Homo sapiens: one gene and its partners. The protein of the gene in region 1 purifies or fractionates together with the protein of each later gene. This does not show direct contact. Each region holds a gene or a part of one and is shown in the gene's direction. Other genes may lie near its edges.

The links. The genes of interacting proteins can lie anywhere in the genome.
Region 2: the proteins of ANAPC15 (region 1) and ANAPC2 purify together in Homo sapiens (affinity purification with mass spectrometry; 4 studies listed by BioGRID and IntAct, with this or other methods). This does not show direct contact.
Region 3: the proteins of ANAPC15 (region 1) and CDC27 purify together in Homo sapiens (affinity purification with mass spectrometry; 3 studies listed by BioGRID and IntAct, with this or other methods). This does not show direct contact.

The regions. Positions count from the first base shown.
Region 1 is NC_000011.10:72,109,696-72,116,684, reverse strand, and holds the start of ANAPC15 (anaphase-promoting complex subunit 15), read left to right. Parts: upstream 1-3,989; 5' UTR 3,990-4,035; intron 4,036-4,386; exon of another isoform or gene 4,387-4,446; intron 4,447-4,449; exon of another isoform or gene 4,450-4,761; intron 4,762-5,188; 5' UTR 5,189-5,273; intron 5,274-5,398; 5' UTR 5,399-5,408; coding exon 5,409-5,528; intron 5,529-5,902; exon of another isoform or gene 5,903-6,081; coding exon 6,082-6,141; exon of another isoform or gene 6,142-6,423; coding exon of another isoform or gene 6,424-6,459; coding exon 6,460-6,597; exon of another isoform or gene 6,598-6,744; coding exon of another isoform or gene 6,745-6,756; coding exon 6,757-6,804; 3' UTR 6,805-6,989. UniProt on the Homo sapiens protein: Component of the anaphase promoting complex/cyclosome (APC/C), a cell cycle-regulated E3 ubiquitin ligase that controls progression through mitosis and the G1 phase of the cell cycle.
Region 2 is NC_000009.12:137,178,552-137,185,578, reverse strand, and holds part of ANAPC2 (anaphase-promoting complex subunit 2), read left to right. Parts: intron 1-491; coding exon 492-666; intron 667-1,787; coding exon 1,788-1,907; intron 1,908-2,336; coding exon 2,337-2,454; intron 2,455-3,716; coding exon 3,717-3,898; intron 3,899-4,649; coding exon 4,650-4,791; intron 4,792-5,051; coding exon 5,052-5,127; intron 5,128-5,194; coding exon 5,195-5,398; intron 5,399-7,027. UniProt on the Homo sapiens protein: Together with the RING-H2 protein ANAPC11, constitutes the catalytic component of the anaphase promoting complex/cyclosome (APC/C), a cell cycle-regulated E3 ubiquitin ligase that controls progression through mitosis and the G1 phase of the cell cycle.
Region 3 is NC_000017.11:47,179,287-47,186,313, reverse strand, and holds part of CDC27 (cell division cycle protein 27 homolog), read left to right. Parts: intron 1-4,676; coding exon 4,677-4,752; intron 4,753-7,027. UniProt on the Homo sapiens protein: Component of the anaphase promoting complex/cyclosome (APC/C), a cell cycle-regulated E3 ubiquitin ligase that controls progression through mitosis and the G1 phase of the cell cycle.

The DNA.
Region 1 (6,989 bases):
GTGAACTATAATTCCATTAGACCCAAGGAAAAAAACCCATCTTATATAAACATTTGTTGAGTGGCTACTCTGTGCTAGACACTGTGCAAGGTGCCGGGGAAATACAGATGAATCACACAGAGATCTGGCCTCAAGGGCCTAATGACTTGCGTTAGTCTGGTATCCACACCATACTGGGTAGTTGCAGAGGACTAGGACTCAAATCGAATTCCTCTGTGAGTCCCCATCGGCAAGCACATATCAGCCCATAAGGAAGATTTGTGGAACAATGCAAGATTTTGACATTCTTGAGTTGTAGCTTCAACTCAGACAAGCCGCTTTACTTTCCTGAGCCTCAGGTTCCTCATCTGCTAAATGAAGGCAGAATCCCCAGGGCTGGGCTAAGGATAAGTGGAGACTATGAGTGGGAAAACTCTCTGGAGACCAACTATCCCTCCATATGTATGAAAGGTAGTGACTGTGACTGTTACATTCTCCCCTGTCCCCTACCAGGGTCAGCCATGCTCCTCAAGGTTTATGGAAGGAATGAGTAAGCAGCTTTCACTAGCACTGAATTCACACCACTCAACTCTGGCCCTTCCTGGATCCTAGAGAATTCTCTGCATAGAATCATGGTTTCCATCTTCAGCCTCTGGGCTCTGGATTTATTGATTTCTGTTGAGAAATCTCCATCCTGACCCTGCTTTCCATTCCTAGGCCCTGGTTTGTATAAATCACAAATAAGGCAAATGTAAAAATCTAAGAATGGAAAGGATCAAGCTAGGGGAATCCCTTCCAGGGACTCACATCAGAGCTGGCGACATGGTTAGATATTATGTTAGAGAACACGGAAGCTTGTGAATGGGGAGACATCTACCTGGGGTCCCCAGCAAGTCGGCAATAAGACAAAGGTGAGACCCAAGATGCCCAGATCCCATCCCATCCACTCCATATAGGGCCACCAAAGACCTTCCCTATCTGGGTCCCCTATCATTCTTTCTCATCTTTCTCCACTCCACATATCTAGTTCTGCCCAGATTCTCAATGTTCTCCAAACATGCCCTTGAATGAAATATGCCTCTTTGTGCACCCTCTTTTCCTACTTATTTACCAGTGGGCTTAACTCCTACTCATCCCTCAAGGCCCACTCAAATGTTTCCTTTTCTGGAACAAAAGTCTAAACTTAGTTTGTTCAGAACCCATTCATCAATCCCTCCTCTGTGTTCTCATGTATTCTCTACATACATTGATTTTAACATTTATTACCCTCCTCTATAATTGTCTATAATTGTCTTAGTACTCACTATACTCTATTTTTCTCTAGGGCAGGAATTATTTCTGCTTCCCCTCTGTCCCCAGGGCCTAGAAAGGTGTCTGGCACTCAGTTGGTACTCAATAAATGTCACCAGCTAACCAGTCATCATTACTTACTGAGCCTGGCTGATGACCCTGAAAAGAAACTCTGTTACTAGGGAATTTCCAGCAGGCGGAATTATCAGGAAGGACGGGGCAAATGGTACCTGAGGTAAGAATCCTGTAAGAAAAAGATGCCGGAGGAGAAACTGATGGAGACACAGGTCACAGAAGGAAGATGAGGAATCCAGGAGAAGGTCATGCTGGGCCCTGGGGACATAGTAACCATTCAGTCCCTGCCCTCAAGGAGCTCATGGTCTGTTGGGGAAATAAACAAAAGCACAATTTTGTACAGAATGAGGCTGCAGTAAACCATTTTCTCCTACCACCCTTTCTTTACATGGCTTCCAAGATACCATCAACTCACCCAGCTTTCTACTTATCTTTTTGGCCTTCCTTCTCCATCTGGTTTGCTGCTTTTCCTAGTTTCCTCAAATTCTGAATATTGGAGGAAACTATTTTCCAACTACATTCACTCCCTTGGTGATCTCATCCAGTCTCATGACTTTAAACACCATCTACATGCCAATGACTCCCAAATGATCTATCCAGCCCAGATCTCTGCCCTGACCTGCAGACTCATATGCCTTCCTGCCGCCCCAACATCTCTACTCTAATGGGCATCTCAGACTCAACACACTCAAACCTAAGCTCCCTGTCAAAAAAAAACCAAACCCCTCATCACCTCCCCATTCCTTCCCAACTCAAAAAAGTGGCAACACCAATCTTCTAGTCGTTCAGCCCAAAAATCGTGGCTCCTTTCTTATTCTGGCATTGTCCATCTGTTAGCAAACCTTGTAGTCTCTACCATCTAAATAAATTCAGAATTCAACCACTTCTCATCCACTACCTCTAGATTATCATAATAGGCTCCCAAATGGTCTCCCTGCTTCTGCCATTGTCTCCCCTACCCCAGTCTATTTGGAGAACAGCCAGAGTAACTCAGTTAAACTGTAAATCAGATTGTGTGGACCCTGTGCTCACAACCCTCCACTGGCTCCCCAACTCCTCATCTCCTACCTATTACTCTCCCTAGAGGACACTATGCCCAAGCCATTCTAGGCCCTCTGCACTTGTATTCTCTCTCTCTGAAATGCTCTTCCACAAATATCAGAAGGCTCTCTGCTCCTTCAGACCTTTACTCAAAAGTCACCTTCCCAGTGACTTTGGCCCCCCAGTCTGAAATAAAACACCTCCCCTGCAAATATTTTATTCCCACTTCTCAGATTTATTTTTTCTCTTATTTACTGCAATCTTACAACTACATATTTTATTTATCTATCTTCTTTATTGTTTACCTCTCTCAGAATGAAGGCTGCATGAAAAGAGGGACTTTTTTGGTCTGTTTTGTTTACTATTGTATACCCACTACTAAGAATAGTGATGGACATATACTAAGGCACTCAGTAGGTATTTGTTGAATGAATGAAAAAGGTAGTCATTTCCAAGAGGCAAAGTTTACTCTTTAATGAAAAACTATAACAAACAGTGCTATTTGGCAATATAATCACATTCAATATGCACAGTACACGACCTCTTGAACAATTCTTATCCAATCTTCACATCAGCCCAGGATAGAAGGAAGGCTGGGCAGAGATTATGATGCTGGTTGACAAAGAAGCTGAGTCCAGAGAGAGGAAAAGGAATTGCCAAAACTCACACATCTGGCCAGGACAGTACTGGAAATGCGGATAACTGCTGTCCCTGAAAGAGGCTGGTAAGTGATGGAGTTTAATAGGAATTGGGTTTGAAGGACCTCTGTTGCCAGAAAGCATGAGTATCTCTAAAGGCGAAGCTGAGTCAGAGGTTACTAGAACAGAGGCATCAGCAAAGGATGGGAGAGGTGACGAGGGCGATCTCTAAGTGTACTTGGCCCAGGCCTGAGGAGGGCAGCTGATTCCCCCAGCAACAGAATGCTGTGCCTGAGGCTAACTAGTCATTCAAGTCTGTACATAATCTCCAATGTCAAAACTCAACAAGCAACCTTAAGAGAGACCACTAAGTCTACTGCATGTCTGCAGGGTTTGGCTTCCCTGGACTGTGAGGTCTTCCAGGGAAGCGACCATATTCCTAGATTTATCCCCAGTTTCTAGCAAGGCCTGGAATATAGTAATATTGTAACTCTAATATTTTTGTTCAGAGCAAAAATAAAAAAGAATGAATATGCTCAAACGGGAAACTGTAGCTGAGAGAGCACAGATAGGAGGGGCCTAACATCAACCAGCAATTCTGAAGTAGTAACAGATTAGTTTTCTGGGATGCAGCAGGACGAATGGCCCTCGCACTAAAAGGTTGCTGTCAGCTCTTCTTCAGAAGGGGTTAACAAGCAAATGGTGACTGGCAACAAAAGGGCAGGGGTTAAACGGGGCAGTGGTTAAACGAGACCGTAGTGCTGGCGCCAGGATGGAGACGCCGACTGGCTGAGACTCAAGGCGGGGCAGATAGGTAGGCGCGGCACACTTCCTTCCCTAACAATGTGACTAAGGTAGGTCAACGTCACATCCGGTTTAGTGGGCGGGAGCGGGGAAAACAAAAGGAGACGAAGGACGCATGCGTTTGGTGAGTCCCGGATTCTGGTGGGTTCTTCCGCTCAGGCTGGGTGAAGCGCTTCCGGGTCGCCGCCGGCAGCAGCCTCCCGGCGCGGTAAGTACAGACGCAAGGCTGCAACCGTCTCCTTGCCCCTTCATTCCTTTTTCCCCCAGAGAAACCCATTTCCTTTGACCCGACTCCCCAGGAGCTCCATATTGAGAGTCCTTAACCCTTAAAGAGCTCCAGCTCATTGGCCGCTTCCTCGAGACTAAGCCCCACCCCGTCACACAAGGTCCGTCATTCATTGGTGTCACTTCCTGTCACCCAGCATTTCTTTCAGTTAATTGGTCCTACCCAGGCCCCGCTTTTTTCGCGTTTAGCAACCCTATAAGGCCAAATTTCTGTCTGAGACCCGCCCTGCTTTCTTTCTGTTGGTCAACTGCATGGTCATTATCGTAATGAGCAAAGAAAGGGCGGTGGCTTTGCGACGGTGGGTTGGGCTTTCGGAGCCGAGATCGCTGGTCTGTCAGTACTTCTTGGACATGAGGGTGTTTACCGTCGTGCCTAATTACGCGGGTTGGGAATCTGAGATACAGGGAAGGGCAGCGGCTGGCCCTGGGTCGGTCAGATAAATTAAGACAAAAGCAGGACCAGGCATCGATTATTTTCTCCTGCTCATCCCTTTCACGGAGGAATTCTAAGCCCCGACACACTGTATGACCTAAAGCCAGTCTCTGCCTGTCGCTGGGCCTCAGTTCGCCTGTCCTAAGTTTAATTCAGATTATCTGGCACTCCTGGTCGGCTCCCTCAGCCGCTCAAAGCTGATTGTACCCTTATAATGTTAGTTCATCCATTCAATCTTCCATCTACTTATTTATCCACTTATTCATGCCTCCTAGAATGTCTTACTGAACCCTGCTTGCATATGCTACAATCCCTCCACCCCGACATTTGGCTGTGATTCATGAGAGGTCGTTAGTGTCCTAAATTTCTGACACTGGGTGGGTGTGGTATGGGCCATCATAAAGGGTCAAAAAGCAGGTTTTAGTGTGTGGAGGAGGTAGGGATAGTTTCAGTAGAACCCTGCTACCTCTAATTTTGTATAATTTCATAATGCCAGTCTGCATTCTGGATTCCTATCCCTACACTTGACTCCCATTCTCATCCCTCCTTGAACAGCCTGCAAACAGCTTTGTTGATCCATTATTTACTTAATTATCAGAATAACTTTGACAGTGGTATAATTGTTATTATCCCCATTTTACAGATGAAGACACTGAGGCTCAGAGAGGTTAAGTGACTCAGCCAAGGTCAAACAGCTAGTAAGTGGTGGAGCCAGGACTCAAAGCCAGGTCTGTCTGATTCCTAGGGGGAGGGGCTGCTTTCCTGCTGTCTTCCACCCTATCCCTAAATCAAATTACAACCAAATTAAAAACAAAAACAAAGCAAAACACATTCACTTGACCCTTTCCCTCAGTCTAGGAGCCATGTCCACTTTGTTCCCCTCACTCTTCCCTCGTGTGACTGAGACTCTGTGGTTTAATCTGGATCGACCCTGTGTGGAAGAGACAGAGCTGCAGCAGCAGGAACAGCAGCATCAGGCCTGGGTGAGTGAGCAGCTAGCACAGCACAGAGACCTCAGCACAGACAGAGACCTCCTTCAGTGGGCCATGACCCAGCCTTACTCCAGAAATCTACCCAGGAAGAGCTTTTTGCCCTGAGCTGGGAATAATCGGGCTGGGAGCCAGGGAGCCAAGGTTCTCATCTTGTGGTACCCTATTTTACAGGGGTACCATGTGACTTCTGGGCCAGATTAGAGCCCAGGCTGCTGACACTCAGCCCAAGCTCTTTTCCCTAAAGCACAGGAAATAATTTTGACTATTAATTGAGGATCTAGCAGATGATGCTTTCTAGGCTGATAAGTCTCTCACTTCATCCTCACCATAATTATACAAAAAAAAGAAGGCTCAGAGAGTTTAAGTATTTGGATCAAGTTCATAAATGGCAGATGACAAGAAAGGGATTGTATCTCCCTGAGAACTGGGAGGAAGCTTCTCCCCAACACGTGTGGGTTGTCTTCTGGGCAGAATGGGCCAGTCCCATGCCCCTGACCTGCCCTACTTGGGCTCTGGCCTTGTTCCTCTGTGCCTTTGCCCACAGCTCCAAAGCATCGCGGAGAAAGACAACAACCTGGTTCCTATTGGCAAGCCAGCCTCAGAGGTGAGTGGCTCTAGCAGGTGGGGCCTGTGTGGGGGCCGCAGTGGACCGAGGCTCTGCTCTAATTCTGAATGTCCTGTCTCTGACCCAGAGCAGTTGTGGTTCTCAGATCTGGGTAAAAGCCTAAAAGGGGAGATAGAAGGGGTGGGCATTGGGCCTAGCATTAAGGTCCTGCAGAACATGCACCAGCCTGCTAGACTCAAGGAGGGAGTGTCGGGGTAGGGGGTCATTCATTGGCCCTAGAGAGAGGCTCAAGTGGGTCAGTTCTTGAACTGGTCCATGCAGGCCTGTAGGGCTTACAGGCTCTGTCCTGCCCACCAGCACTATGATGACGAGGAAGAAGAGGATGATGAAGATGATGAGGATAGTGAAGAGGACTCAGAGGATGATGAGGATATGCAGGACATGGACGAGATGAATGACTACAATGAGTCACCGGATGATGGAGAGGTCAATGAGGTAGGCAAGGGGTATGGGGGAGGGCCTCTGTTCCTGGACCCTTGCTCCTGACCCAGTTGATGGCCAAGGGGTACAGAAACCCTGGATCCAGCCAGGGGCAGGATCTGGGGCTGAGGCTGGCTGAGGCCCCTCCCCACCCACACCCAGCCTCCTCTCCAGGTGGACATGGAAGGCAACGAACAGGATCAGGACCAGTGGATGATCTAGGTAGACAAGGCAGGGTGGCCTCAGGGAGATTCCAGGCCAGCCCAAACTACCCTGCATCCCAACCCCCAACCCCTGCCCACAGAACCAGCTGATGGCCCCAGTGCCTGAAAGTGCCCTTGGGCACCTCCTCAGCTGCTGCCAGGATCTGGTCTCTTTGGCCCCTCCCAGGCCATCAGTCTGCACTT
Region 2 (7,027 bases), on another chromosome or scaffold:
AGAGTGGGTAGTAGGGTGGAGAGGGTGAACATCCGTGCGGTCTTGCCACTGGGTAGCAGGTCTGTGGGGCATGAGCACGCCTGGGCCCCGCGGCGGAATTGCCACCTAGAGGTTTGTGCTCGCCTGGGCCCCCCGGCTGGTCTCAAGGGCGTGTTTATCCATTTAAGTGGGGGCAAGTGTGCCCACCAGGCACAGCGCACAGGTCGTGTGTGTCTGTCATGTCTCACGCTAGGGTTGCTGCTGCCAGTGATAAGTGTGGGCACTGGCGCGTGTGAGAGGCACGAAGACTGCAGGGGGGCCGGGACGTCGCCTTTTGGGCCATCACCCACCCTGCAGGTTTTGATGTGCTCCAGCCTCCAGACGCAGGTGGCCTTCGGGCTCCCCTCGGTCCCGGCCGACAGGGTGGGTGGCCGTGAGGCTCCTCCCAGCCTCTGAGTCAGCCCGGGGCTCACCATGCCTCCCTGCAGCTCACACTAGCGTTCTCCTGACAGTGGATCGAGCGGGTGGTCGGCTGGCTCGGCAAGGTGTTCCTGCAGGACGGCCCCGCCAGGCCCGCATCTCCCGAGGCCGGCAACACCCTGCGCCGCTGGCGCTGCCACGTGCAAAGGTTCTTCTACCGCATCTACGCCAGCCTGCGCATCGAGGAGCTCTTCAGCATCGTCCGAGGTGGTCCTGCCCCGGCCCTGGGGTCCGCTCTCCCGTCTGGGGAGTCTTCCCAGGGCCTTCCCCGTGTCTCCTCTGTGTCTGCATCTGGGCTCCCTGTGCCTTCACCGTGTCTGCTCTGTGTCTGCGTCTGGGGCTCCCAGGGCCTTTGCCGTGTCTGCTCTGTGTCTGCGTCTGGGCTCCCTGTGTCTGCGTCTTGGGCTCCCTGTGCCTTCGCCGTGTCTGCTCTGTGTCTGCGTCTGGGCTCCCTGTGTCTGCGTCTGGGCTCCCTGTGCCTTCACCGTGTCTGCTCTGTCTGCGTCTGGGGCTCCCAGGGCCTTCGCCGTGTCTGCTCTGTCTGCGTCTGGGCTCCCTGTGTCTGCGTCTGGGGCTCCCAGGGCCTTCGCTGTGTCTGCTCTGTGTCTGCATCTGGGCTCCCTGTGCCTTCGCCGTGTCTGCTCTGTGTCTGCGTCTTGGGCTCCCTGTGCCTTCACCGTGTCTGCTCTGTGTCTGCGTCTGGGCTCCCTGTGTCTGCGTCTGGGCTCCCCGTGCCTTCACCGTGTCTGCTCTTTGTCTGCATCTGGGGCTCCCAGGGCCTTCGTCGTGTCTGCTCTGTGTCTGTGTCTGGGCTCCTTGTGTCTGCGTCTGGGCTCCCTGTGCCTTCGCCGTGTCTGCTCTGTGTCTGCATCTGGGGCTCCCAGGGCCTTCGCCATGTCGGCTCTGTGTCTGCATCTGGGCTCCCTGTGTCCACGTCTGGGGCTCCCTGTGCCTTCGCTGTCGCTCTTGCAGGGGGGTGCACCGGGCAGTGCTGGGACTGTCCCCACTGCGGCGTCCCCCGTGCCTGGATCAGGGCAGGTGTGGCAGATGCTGGACAGTGCTTCTGGGTGTCCACTGCTGTGCTGCCTTGGCCTTGGCTCCTGCTGGGGACTGGCCCCTGGGTGTTGCTCTGTCCACCCTGTGGCATTGTGGTCAAATGCATCAGCACGCCAGAGTGTCGGGGGGATGTCTGGTGCCTAGCAGGTGGTCTCATCATCGTCCTGGGGCTGGCAAGCACGTGTCCTTTCCCACACCGCACACACTCTGCACCAGCCTGCACGTGCGCACGCATCCATGTCTGTCCCTGAGGGATGTTCTTCTTCTTGTAGACTTCCCAGACTCCCGGCCAGCCATCGAGGACCTCAAGTACTGCCTGGAGAGGACGGACCAGAGGCAGCAGCTGCTCGTGTCCCTCAAGGCTGCCCTGGAGACTCGGCTCCTGCATCCAGGTGCTGTGTGCTGCCCGGCCACCCAGCACTCTGGGCTTAGACACTCACCAGGGGACCCATGTCCAGGGAGCCTGGGGCCTAGTCTGCCAGCCCTGGACTTGTAGGTCTAAGGAAGAAATGGGTTGAGAAGCAATTGGTGAGGTCCTTAGGGGATCTGAGGTGCCCGTCAGCTTGCTTGTTTCTTCTTTGGAGGGAGTCAGGACTGACCGGTAGGTCTGAGGTGATGAGACTTAGTTCTCTCAGAACAGACCTCCCTGCAGGGCGGGACCTGTGAACAGGTAGAGGTGGGGATGGGGGGACAAGGGAACGAGGCTGCAGTGGGGACCTGTAGACCACCTACCGGCATGGCCAGCTGTCTACTCGGGTGTTGCCCCTGGGAGGCTGTGGTCCCGGGCACTGCATGACTGCTGGCTTCTGCCCTGGCTGTAGGCGTCAACACGTGTGACATCATCACCCTCTATATCTCTGCCATCAAGGCGCTGCGCGTGCTGGACCCTTCCATGGTCATCCTGGAGGTGGCCTGTGAGCCTATCCGCCGCTACCTGAGGTGAGGGCTGCAGCTGGCCCAGGAGCCACTGGGACCCTGGGCATCCTGCTGAGCTCCTCGTGGTCCTGGGGGGCAGCCGGAGGGTGTGTTCGGCCGTCAGGACACAAGGTCTCCCCCGGCTGGGCTGAGTGCACGGGATCAGGCCCGAGGCTCTTTCCTTTCCTCTTGCCCGTGCCGGGCACCTGTCCTTGTCACACGGTGTCACCGTGCCCTCTGTGTGCAGCTGCCAGAGGCCCACCACAGCCCTTCCTCAGCCTCCCCATCTCCAGCACAGAGAGAAGCTCTTCCACTTGGCCTCGCCTTGGTGCTGACCAGTCCCCAAGGCCGACCAGGCAAGGGGAGTGGGCTCTGCTGTCCTGGCCTTTCCCACGGCAAGGAACAGACACTCCTGGGGCTGTTCGGTGGAGAATGTGTTGGGATGAGGACCTTGACATGGCTGCCTGGGAATTCCTCAGGGGTCGCAGAGGCCCTGGCCCGGGGCTGGCAGGCACAGTGGCCCCCAGGAGCCGAGCAGCAGGAGCCGGTGGAGTCTGGCCCCTACCTGGACTCCTTTGGTGCTTTGTGGCTGTAACTGGCCTGGCTTCTGAGCCAGTTCTTTGTTTTTTCTTTTTTTTTTGAGATGGAGTCTCACTCTTTCGCCCAGGCTGGAGTGCAGTGGCACGATCTCTGCTCACTGCAAGCTCCGCCTCCCGGGTTCACGCCATTCTCCTGCCTCAGCCTCCCGAGTAACTGAGACTACAGGCCGCCACCAAGCCTGGCTAACTTTTTGTATTTTTAATAGAGATGGGGTTTCACCATGTTAGCCAGGATAGTCTTGATCTCCTGACCTCGTGATCCGCCTGCCTCGGCCTCCTGAAGTGCTGGGATTACAGGCGTGAGCCACCGTGCCCGGCCCTTTTTTCTTTTTCTTTTTCTTTTTTTTGAGGCAGGCTCTCGCTCTGTTGGAGTGCAGTGGCAGAATCCTGTCTCCCTGCAGCCTCGGACACCTGGGCTTAGGTCTTCTGGCTTAGTGTCCCTATGTGCTGGGATTGCAGGTGCGCAGGCCGGCCTTGCGCTCGCAGCTCCTGCTGCTCCCAAGTAACGTTGGGTTTATTTGTTTTTAAGGAGTCTGACGGGCCTGTGTTTAGTACATAGCCCATCACCACTGAGTGTAGAGGCAGGGTCGGTGGTGCTGGCCTAGATGGGGCCGGGACTGGAATGAGTGGTGGGAGGTGCGCGCGGGGTGTCCACACTGTGGGCCACAGCAGCACTCACATCGGCAGGACGCGGGAGGACACAGTGCGGCAGATTGTGGCTGGGCTGACGGGGGACTCGGACGGGACAGGGGACCTGGCTGTTGAGCTGTCCAAGACCGACCCGGCGAGCCTGGAGACAGGCCAGGACAGTGAGGATGACTCAGGCGAGCCAGAGGACTGGGTCCCGGACCCTGTGGATGCCGATCCAGGTTAGCTTGCCCCACATGGTCCCTTTCACCAGTGTGGGGGGCGCTTCAGCCAGGCCGTCCGCTCTGGACTCATCCCTTGTCACAGAGCTTGGCTGTGTCAGGTGTCGCTAGTGTCTCAGAGGCTTGAGGGTGTCAAAGGTCAGGGCAGTGCTCCGCCACCTGCCAGCCTGGGCAGGCCGGTGATGGGCTGTTTTCCTCTGTGGCTGGTCACTCTGGCCGTGGGGGATGCCCTGCCTCCCACCGCTTGTGAGCTGTGGGGTGTCCCTGCCCCGCCACTGCACCTGGCAGAGGAGTGAAGATGTGGGTGACCCCTGAGCTCTGTACTGATTTGGGCCTCAAAGTCCCGTTAGGGTGCCAGCTCCTGCTCAGAGCCCATCTGTGCCTGGCCCTCGTCTGCGAGGGCTCTGAGGGCTATGGGGCCCAGGCCTGGCCCCTGCCCTGGCACAGATGGTAAGTCTTCAACACATCTTTAGTCTCTCTCAGAGGAAAACCCCAGGACCTTTGGCTTGTCCCCTAAGCCTGCATGGGAGTCCCGGAAGGTCCCTGTGGGGTGAGAGGGGCTGGGGATTGAAGCTGTTGCTCCAGGACCTGACTCCAGGTCTCCCGGGAGGCTCAGGGCTGCTCCCAGCCTCGAGGGCCTTCAGGAAGAGCCATGCTGGGCTGTGCCGTCTGGCTGGGCGGGATGGGAGGAGGGCGGCCCTGTCCTTGCCCAGGTGCCTGTCAGGTGACACCCCTGCCCCCACCATGCCAGGGAAGTCGAGCTCCAAGCGGCGTTCATCGGACATCATCAGCCTGCTGGTCAGCATCTACGGCAGCAAGGACCTCTTCATCAATGAGTACCGCTCGCTGCTGGCCGACCGCCTGCTGCACCAGTTCAGCTTCAGCCCCGAGCGGTGAGGCCTGTGACGCGCTGGCCATCTCCAGGGGTGCCGGGGCCTTTGCCCAGCCTCTCTCGGGACAGGGCCCTGACGCCGTGCCTGGGGCCTGGTTGGAGCTGTGCTTCCGCCCCCACTCCTGGCTGGGGGTGTGCTAGCCATTGGGGTGCCCACACAGGCTCCCTGCTCTGCCTGGGGGGCACCCCCGTGCCCTGCCACAGGTGCTCCTTGGGGCTGGGGCTCATCACGACCCCCTGCCCAGACACTCGTCTTTCCAGGGAGATCCGCAACGTGGAGCTGCTGAAGCTGCGCTTTGGCGAGGCCCCAATGCACTTCTGTGAAGTCATGCTGAAGGTGGGTCCCAGCCCCGCCCGCTGCCCGGCCGCCCCGCAGGTCCCCCGTGACACCGGCTCCTCCTCAGGACATGGCGGACTCCCGCCGCATCAATGCCAACATCCGGGAGGAGGATGAGAAGCGGCCAGCAGAGGAGCAGCCACCGTTCGGGGTCTACGCTGTCATCCTGTCCAGTGAGTTCTGGCCGCCCTTCAAGGACGAGAAGCTGGAGGTCCCCGAGGATATCAGGGCAGCCCTGGAGGCTTACTGCAAGAAGTATGAGCAGCTCAAGGTACCTCCATGCCAGGCCACCCCATGGGCTCTTGGCACCCCTACCCTGCACTGCGGGGCTCCCAGCAGCCTGGTGCCTGTGGCTGCCCCGTTGTCACCCGAGTGTCTCTGGGTTGGTCCTGTCTCGCAGCCGCCTCTGCAGGAGAGGGAGTGGGCCTGGCCCACGCTCTCTCCGCCTTCCTCCCAGCAACCCCGTGTCCCCTGTGAGCGAGCGTCCGCGCGGCCCACAGGCGCTTGGGTGGGCTGTGCTGGGCCCAGGTCTCCTGAACTGCTTCAGGGGGACCCCTGTGGCCACAGCAGGCCCTGCCCTCTGAGCGTTTCCTCCTCTTTTGCTATCCACCCTCTGCCTCTCAGAACCGGGGCTTGGGGTGCCTTGCGTCACTGCAGGGAGGCAGCTAGGGAGCCAGGGCTGCCCTCTGCCCAGGGCAGCACTCCCAGGCGCACCTGACCCCCAGGACCCCAGCCCTGCCCCCTTCTCCAGGTCTGTTTCCTCGAGAACTGCCTTTGCAGGCTCCAGTGGTACTTGAGGACCGGGGCTATGGGTCTGTGGTGGGAGTAGGAGGGGAGCAGATGTGGGGAGTGGAGGAGTGAGCCCTGGCCTGGAGGTCACTGGCAGATGGGGACAGTGTGCCCAGAGGATGGTATTGGCCACGTTTGGCTCACTTCCCCTGGCAGCACTGCTGAGATCCCAGCAGTCCCAGTACAGGCGTCCAGAGCCTGAGGGATGGAACTAGGCTTGGCGGTTCTTTCCCTGAGCTCATAGTCAGGTGGGAGGTGTCAGCTCGGGGAGGAAGGGTTAGGATGGTCGTCACAGGTGGGAGGTGTCGGCTCGGGGAGGAAGGGGTCGGGATGGTCGTCACAGGCGGGTTCCAGGGCTTTCTGTCTGATGTGTGGGGCCTGTGAGGCCTCCAGTGTGCCCAGCGAGTGCTCAGGACTGGGGGGAGGCGGGCACCCCAGCGGGGGACATGTGAGGAGAGGGTTCTGGGGCACAGCCAGCATCCAGTCTGCAGACCCCAACCCCAGGTACCCCAGGAAGGGGATGGTCCAGCCTCGGCCCAGGCAGGAGGAGCAGCCTCAGGACAGAGCCGCCAGGAGGCCGGCGGGCGGGCGGGGCTGAGTTCAAGGGAGGGTCCACAGCTTCTCCAGGTCTGCTGTGAAGGAGGCTGGACCTAGATGTGTTTTCCTTTTTCTTTTGCAAGTAAGAGGGCCTTGCTGTGTTGACAAACCAAGGGAACTTACTCCTAGGGGAGGGCAGGGCGATGTGTCCACTTTAGAAACCAAGGGGGAAGCTTCCTTCCGGAGACAGACAAGGGGAGGGCCAGGCGGAGGCCCCCAGGGCAGGAGGCCAAGGGGCTGTGGTAGGGCCGGGCTGCTGACCATGGTGGCGAATGCCTGCTGCCTCCCTCCAGGCCTCAGCTTGGCTCTGGAAGAGTCCAGGTGTCCCTTGCAGCTTGTGGAGGGTCTGTGTGGCTTGCACCTGCTCTCGGTGGAAAGGAGCACCCTGGCCATCCCCACACCTCGAGCTCTGGCCTGTGATACAGCCTGGTGTCTCTGGAGCCTGCGGGCACCGTGCCCCGCTGTGTTCTGGTACAAATCATCCGTGTGGCCCGGCTCCGTGCTCGGTCCCTTT
Region 3 (7,027 bases), on another chromosome or scaffold:
AAAATGTTCAGGGACAGCATCTAACATGGATTCAAAGAGTAACATATTTTGGCTACTCAATGAGAAATTTAGATTTAATGTGCATTGGTAATGAATAACCATTATATGAGCAGAAGAGTTTTTGAGCAGAGGAATTATGTAATAAAAGCACCACTTTGGGAATATTTATCTGGTGCTGTTGGAAAGGGAGGAAGAGACAAGAGTTAGACATACAGACTAGTAGAATAATCCAACTGCATGATCATGTAGACCAGGGCTGCTTAATCTGAGCACTATTGACATTTGGGGCAAGCTAATACTTTGTTGGAAGCTGTGCATTGTAGAATGTTTTGTAGCATCCCTGGCTTCTAACCACTGGATGACCCCTCCATTTGTGACAACCAAAAATACCCTCTAGACATTGCTAAATGTTGGGGCATTAATTGGGAGTAAGAAGGCAAAATTGCCCAGAGTAAGAACCACTGACGTGCATCTAAACTAAATCAGTATCCTAGAAATTCAATTATAATGTATAATATGAAATTTCAACAGTGATTTTTTTCTTTGTATCTTCTTACATTGTCTGAAGCCTTTATTATCCATTTATTTTATGGTTTTTAAAAAAGGGCAGCTGACTGGGCACAGTGGCTCACGCTTGTAATCCCAGCACTTTCAGAGGCTGAGGCAGACAGATCACTTGAGCCAAGGAGTTCAAGACCAACAAATAAAATAAAATAAAGACAGCTTTTTTGACAAAAACAAGAACACAAAATGTATAAAAAATTTAACAAAAACAAGTAAACAAATTTTTTGTAATAAGCTTTCTCTAACAAAAAATTTATAATGATTACAGGCCGGGCGCGGTGCCTCACGCCTGTAATCCCAGCACTTTGGGGGGCTGAGGCAGGCGGATCACGAGGTCAGGAGATCGAGACCATCCTGGCCAACAGGGTGAAACCATTCCTTCTCTACTAAAAATACAAAAAAAATTAGCCGGGCATGGTGGCAGGCACCTGTAGTCCCAGCTACTCAGGAGGCTGAGGCAGGAGAATGGCGTGAACCCAGGAGGTGGAGCTTGCAGTGAGCCGAGATCGCGCCACTGCACTCCAGCCTGGGTGACAGAGTGAGACTCTGTCTCAAAAAAAAAGAGAAAAATTTATAGTGATTACATTTAAGTCTAAGTACAACTTATAGAGGTTTGTTTATATTTTAAATAATATTTTATATTTAAGAATAGCTAGCTGGTAAGGAATTTTGCAACTTTAAGCTGTTGGTTTATTTATCTTTTAAATTAGTGCACCTGGGGACTAACCCATTAATCAGTCAGATTTCTCTTAAACATTTTTTAGGGGAGAGGGAGAGGAGCGTTGTTCTTTTTGGCTTCATAACTTTCTTTTAGCAGCATTTCGTTCATCTGGCTTTAATTTGTAGAACTCTAGCGGTAATGCACTGGGTGTTCTTTTAAGGGAAGGCCCACACCATCAGTTGGGCAGAGGTGCTGATTTTAGCCCTGTTCATCATCAGCTACTAATCTGTAGTGCCTTAGAGAATAATCTGTTCTTCCCCCCAATCCCGGCACAAGAGACACTGTTAGTCAGGAACTTAGAATTGATTGAGCAAAGCGGGATGGAAGCAGTATGTGAGATTCTCGAGATGGCAAGTTTTTTCTGATGCTCTTAAGAACTGGTGATAAGGGAATGATGTTCTGAGCAAAGCTTGATTTTAAGTCAGAAATGGATACAACTCTTGAATATGATACCTTTTTTCCTTCTTTTTTCCCCCCGCCCTTGCCTCTTATTTCTTTAATTTTAAAAGGACAGAAAAAATTTCAAAGCTCTAGGACTTTTTGACTTTAGTATATGTGTGTGAAATTTTCCTAGTGGTCCATAGTAGTAAAATAGCTGGTAAATCATTTGAGTCTTTTGTGGCTTATATATTGCAAAATAAGCAGTTGTAGCAGGTATGCTGGGGAGATGTTATGCAACAGAAACTACATATTTATTGAATTTCTTTATATTAAGAGATTGGCAAGGAAAAGGTTTTCCAAGTGCTTAATGTATGATAGTATACTAGGAGCATTATAAATGGATCATTTCATTTAATCCACAAAACAACTCCAATAAATAAACTCCATTTATCAGATGAAGAGATTGAGGCTGAGAAAAGTTGAGTATTTCCCACAAAGTCCCACTACTGGAAGTGCTGGCACACAAATTTGAGCACGTCTCCAAACATCAAATCTTTGGTATCTTCATTCTACTCACCATTTTCTTTCACTTACAGCAAAATTAAACATGTAGGTTCTTAGGAAATCCCAGATTTCATAAAGGAGTAATTTGGTGGTAATTATTTGCATAATAAAATAATTCTTCTATTTATCACAGAGTTTCTTTCAATAGAGACTCCCAGAGATTCTTTATTATTAGATATACATCTAGGAATACAAAGAAACTTAATGCTAAGACTAACGTACAAGAGTGTCAACAGTGGAAGACTGCTAGAAATTAAAGATCATTTGCTTATTCATTCAACATATAAGCACCTGCTTTAAAAGCACATAATGGATACTGGGAGTATAATAATGAGCAAAAACAGACGTAGCCCCTACCTTGTGGAGTTTGTAATATAGTAAGGAAAACATCACTCAAATACTCTCCTAAATTAATACAGAATTATAGCAGTGGGAAGTATTACAAAGGAAAGGTACTTGGTGCAATTAGAGTGTATAATAATGGTGCCTAATCTCATCTTTTTCCTTGTATCTAGATAGGAATGGTAAAATTAGACATCTTTGAGACTTTATAAAATTTAAGCTATATAAACAAAGGTTAAACAAGAGGCTCTGGAGATCCCAAACTAAGTTCATTACTGTTCTTTCTTGAGGAAATAGAAAGGGCTAAGTCATTTACTACTTTTATTTTTAAAATTATAATTAATATACTCATTGCAGAATTATTAAACATTTACTTGTTTGTTCAACAAAATTTGTTGAGCCTTTACTGTATCTAAGGCATATTAATCACTTAATATAATTTAGATGTACTGGTACAATGTTAGCTAGTGATCAGTAACCAGATTTTACTGGTTTCCGTTGTAACCTTTTTAAATCATTCAACAAATTATAAGCTGGTGTATGTGCTAAAAATAAAAAATAACGCTTGTATCATGATCAGGTGTGAGATATCTCAAAAGTAGTTTATTACTAAAAATGATTTGACATTACCTAGTAAAGATGAACATATGCATATTCAACAACCCAGTAATTTTATTCCTAAATATATATCCTAATTTGGAGAGATTCTTTTTTGTGTTTTTTTGATGGGAGTCTTGCTCCTATTGCACTCCAGCAGCTATTCACAGGTATGATCATAGCCTTGAACTCCTGGACTCAAGCAGTCTTCCCAGCTCAGCCTTCTGAGTCGCTGGGACTAAAGGCTCACACCACCGTGATAGGCTGGAGAGATTCTTAAATATATACCCCAGGAGATGAATCTAAGACTGTTGCAGCATTGTTATAATTGGAAAAACAAAACAAAACAAAAAAACACCCTAGAAATAACCCAAATGTCCACATGCTGTAAAATAGATAAAATACATTTTGGATTTTGATATGTTTATACAATGGAAATATTATTTATTCAGCAATGAAAACAAATGAACTCTAGCTACACACATCAAGAATGAATTTTCAAAACATTGGATTTCAAAAGCAAATCGTAGCAGAATGTATACAATATGATTGTATTTATTTAAAGTTCAAAAACAGGAAAAAGTAAATGTTATACTGCTTAGAGATGATATGTACAAATGTATAAAATTGTGAAGAAAACCAAGAGAAAGGTCAAGAAAATTCAGTGTGGTGGTTTCCTCTTTGGGGCAGGGAGAGGTTTTGGTATCAACAAGGAACACACAGGGAGTTTCAGAGATATTTTATTTCTTAAGCTGGGTGGTGAGTACATGGGCCTAAATGTCTTTGGTTATTGTTACTTAAAATGTCCTTCTATCTCATATATACTTTAGGTTATATGTTTTGTAATTCTAAAAGAGAAAACATATATTCAAAAAATTAAAAGTTATTCCTATGATAACTTTACTCATTTGCATTCCAATATGCTTCCTGGAGTGGATGAGAATTGAGTGGCATTAAAGGTAATAGATAGGGAAGTTTTTGTGGGAGGATGACATACATTTTAATATCTCTGTCATGTATATCACATAAAGTGGTTGAGAACCACTGCTGCTAAAAGTCTGTAGTTTAGTAGGGTTGGCAGTCCTGTTAACAAATAACCATGTTATGAGTGCTCTACTAGAAGAGGTATCTTAAAAAAGAAATGGCTTGACATCAGCCAGGAAAGCTTTATGGGGCAGATGTTATTTAAGCTGGATCTTTAGGGACGAGCAGTTTATAAGGGGAGACTGGTGAGGGGAGCCCACATTGCCCAATGGAGGAAAAGGGTGTACAAAGGCACAGAAGCCTAAAAGTCCATAGAGAGTTGAGTGAGGAAATTCAGATATGTTAGGAGCCATACTGTGAAGAGCCTTGCCCGGCACACTCTGGAGTTTGCTCTGTGGGCATTGGGGTTTTATCACTTAAATTAGGGATATTAATTTCAGTATTTGATGTAAGGCTGTGTGCTAGTAGTTACCTTGAAAGTCTGTATGTATGTATATTTATGTTCTTTTTCCTCCATTTGCAGGCTGCTATATGGCAAGCACTAAACCACTATGCTTACCGAGATGCGGTTTTCCTCGCAGAACGCCTTTATGCAGAAGGTTTGAAATCTATTCATTGCTGTAGAATGATAAATGAATAACATATATGAAATTCCATAACTTTTTATCACTGTAACAAGATTCTAGCTATCATCATCTTGTTGTTTTTCTGATTGACACTAGTTCATAAAATCTTTACTTTTTTTCTGTGTAGTTCCCTTACATACTACTTTTAATAACTATGTAGAATTGATTCAGGTTTATATGCTATGATTTACTTAATCATTTTTCAATCTTTAGGTTTTTTTTTCCCCCAGGGTTTTTGTTGTTTTGGGTTTTTTTTTTTTTTTTTTTTTTTTTTTTTTTTGAAACAGGGTCTCACTCTGTCACCCATGTTGGAGTACAGTGGGACCATCTCAGCTCACTGCAACCTCTACCTCCCAGGCTCAAGCGATCCTCCCACATCAGCCTCCCAAGTAGCTGGGACCGCAGGCACGGACCACCACGCCTGGCTAATTTTTTTTTTTTTTTTGGTAGAGATAGGGTTTTGCTATGTTGCCCAGGCTGGTCTCAAATTCCTGAGCTTAGGTGATCCACCTGCCTTGGCCTCCCAAAGTGCTGGGATTATACTCATGGGCCACCATGCCATGTATTTTTTTTTTTTTTTTTTTTTTTTAAGAAAAGAGTCTGTATTCTATGGTGAAGAACATGGATTTAGACTCTATAGCCTTGGAACAAATCCTAACCTGTCACTTAAATGTACAGTTTTATAACCTTGGACGAGTTACTTTAATATCTGAAAATTCAGATATTTCATCTATAAAATAATCATTGCCCCTTAGAATTAAAAATTCAATGAGATGGTTTATTTAAAGCCCTTAGCACAGCCATCTGGCTTGGTAATCAATGCTTAATAAACACCACTGATAATGTATGTTTTGTTTCTGTCATTATTATAATTCCCTTTCTAAGATGCTGATATAGATCATTGTGTACAGCTTTTTTTTTTTTTTGAGTCATTTCCTTGGGTTATGTACTTTTAAATGGAATTTACAAGTCAAACAGTATGGGTTTAGTAGCTGAGAGTTGTGAGAACAAGGCCTAAACCTCAGGGGCAGGAAATTTCACAAAAGGACAAAGAGCAATGCTTGGAAGTAGTTTTGAGAAGTTAAGTGGAAACCAGCCTTACCTTGACTCTGAGATAGTGGGATGTAAGGTGATTACTGTCCATGTGAGAGAGCTGTCTCCTCGGTGGAGAATGGGAATTCAGTGAGAAAAGTGAGGAAGATCTGGGCAGCAGGAGTTTAAGGTCCCAATGAAAAGATTAGAAAGGTGAGAAGGAATGGAAGGCTTAGAAAGAAGATTATACAATAGATTAATCTACTCCATTCACTTATGCAAAAGTGATGTTTATTGTGAATAATCTATTTAAAAATATTTTCATTGATACCTAGGCAGGCCCCATATTTTGCTGTATTTTTAAAAATTTTTGTTGAGTCAGAATCTCACTCTGTCGCCCAGGCTAGAGTACAGTGGCACAATCATAGCTCACTGCAGCCTTGAACTCCTGGACTGAAGTGATCCTCCTGCCTCAGCCTCCCAAAGAGCTGGAGTTACAGATGTGAGCCACTGTACTCGGCCACTGTCTTCTATTTCTAGTATTTCCTTTTTGTTTTTGTTTATTATTAAAGAATAGGCAGTTTCTAGTTTATTATAGTTAGGCTCTTAAAAATTGTAAATTCATGGTTTAGAATTCAATTAGATTTTCCCATAGAATTGGTGGCAAGATTCCCAGATTAGTCCACATAAAGCTGTTTAATCCACGTTATTTATGTACCTGATACAATGCTTGGCACTTGGAAAGTTGCTCAGTAAATGTTAGTTTCTTTCAATATAGAACCTCACCATTCGGTTTAACCATATTTATATGAGGAAAGATTTTAGAATTAAGTGTAGTAAGAGCAGATACTATCCTGGCTCAGTAATAATAACAATAATTCTATCACTTATTGATTTCTTACTGTATACTAGGTACTCTAAGTATTTAATATTAGTTACTAATTTAATCTTCAATAATCCTATCAAATAGACATTGCTATTGCCATTTTCTGGATGAAGAACTGAGACTAATGTCCACAGGCGGTAACTAGTAATCTGTCTGATTCCGCTTTCCCAAGAGTAGCAATTACCACTTCTCTGATTTGCAACCATAGTAGGCATCACTAATCCATTACAGTACTCATTCCCACTGAACCAACCTCAGAATTCTTGGCAACAGTTTTCTTGGTGGACAATATCAGTTGATATGCTAGATGTAACCTGTTTGCTCAGGGGC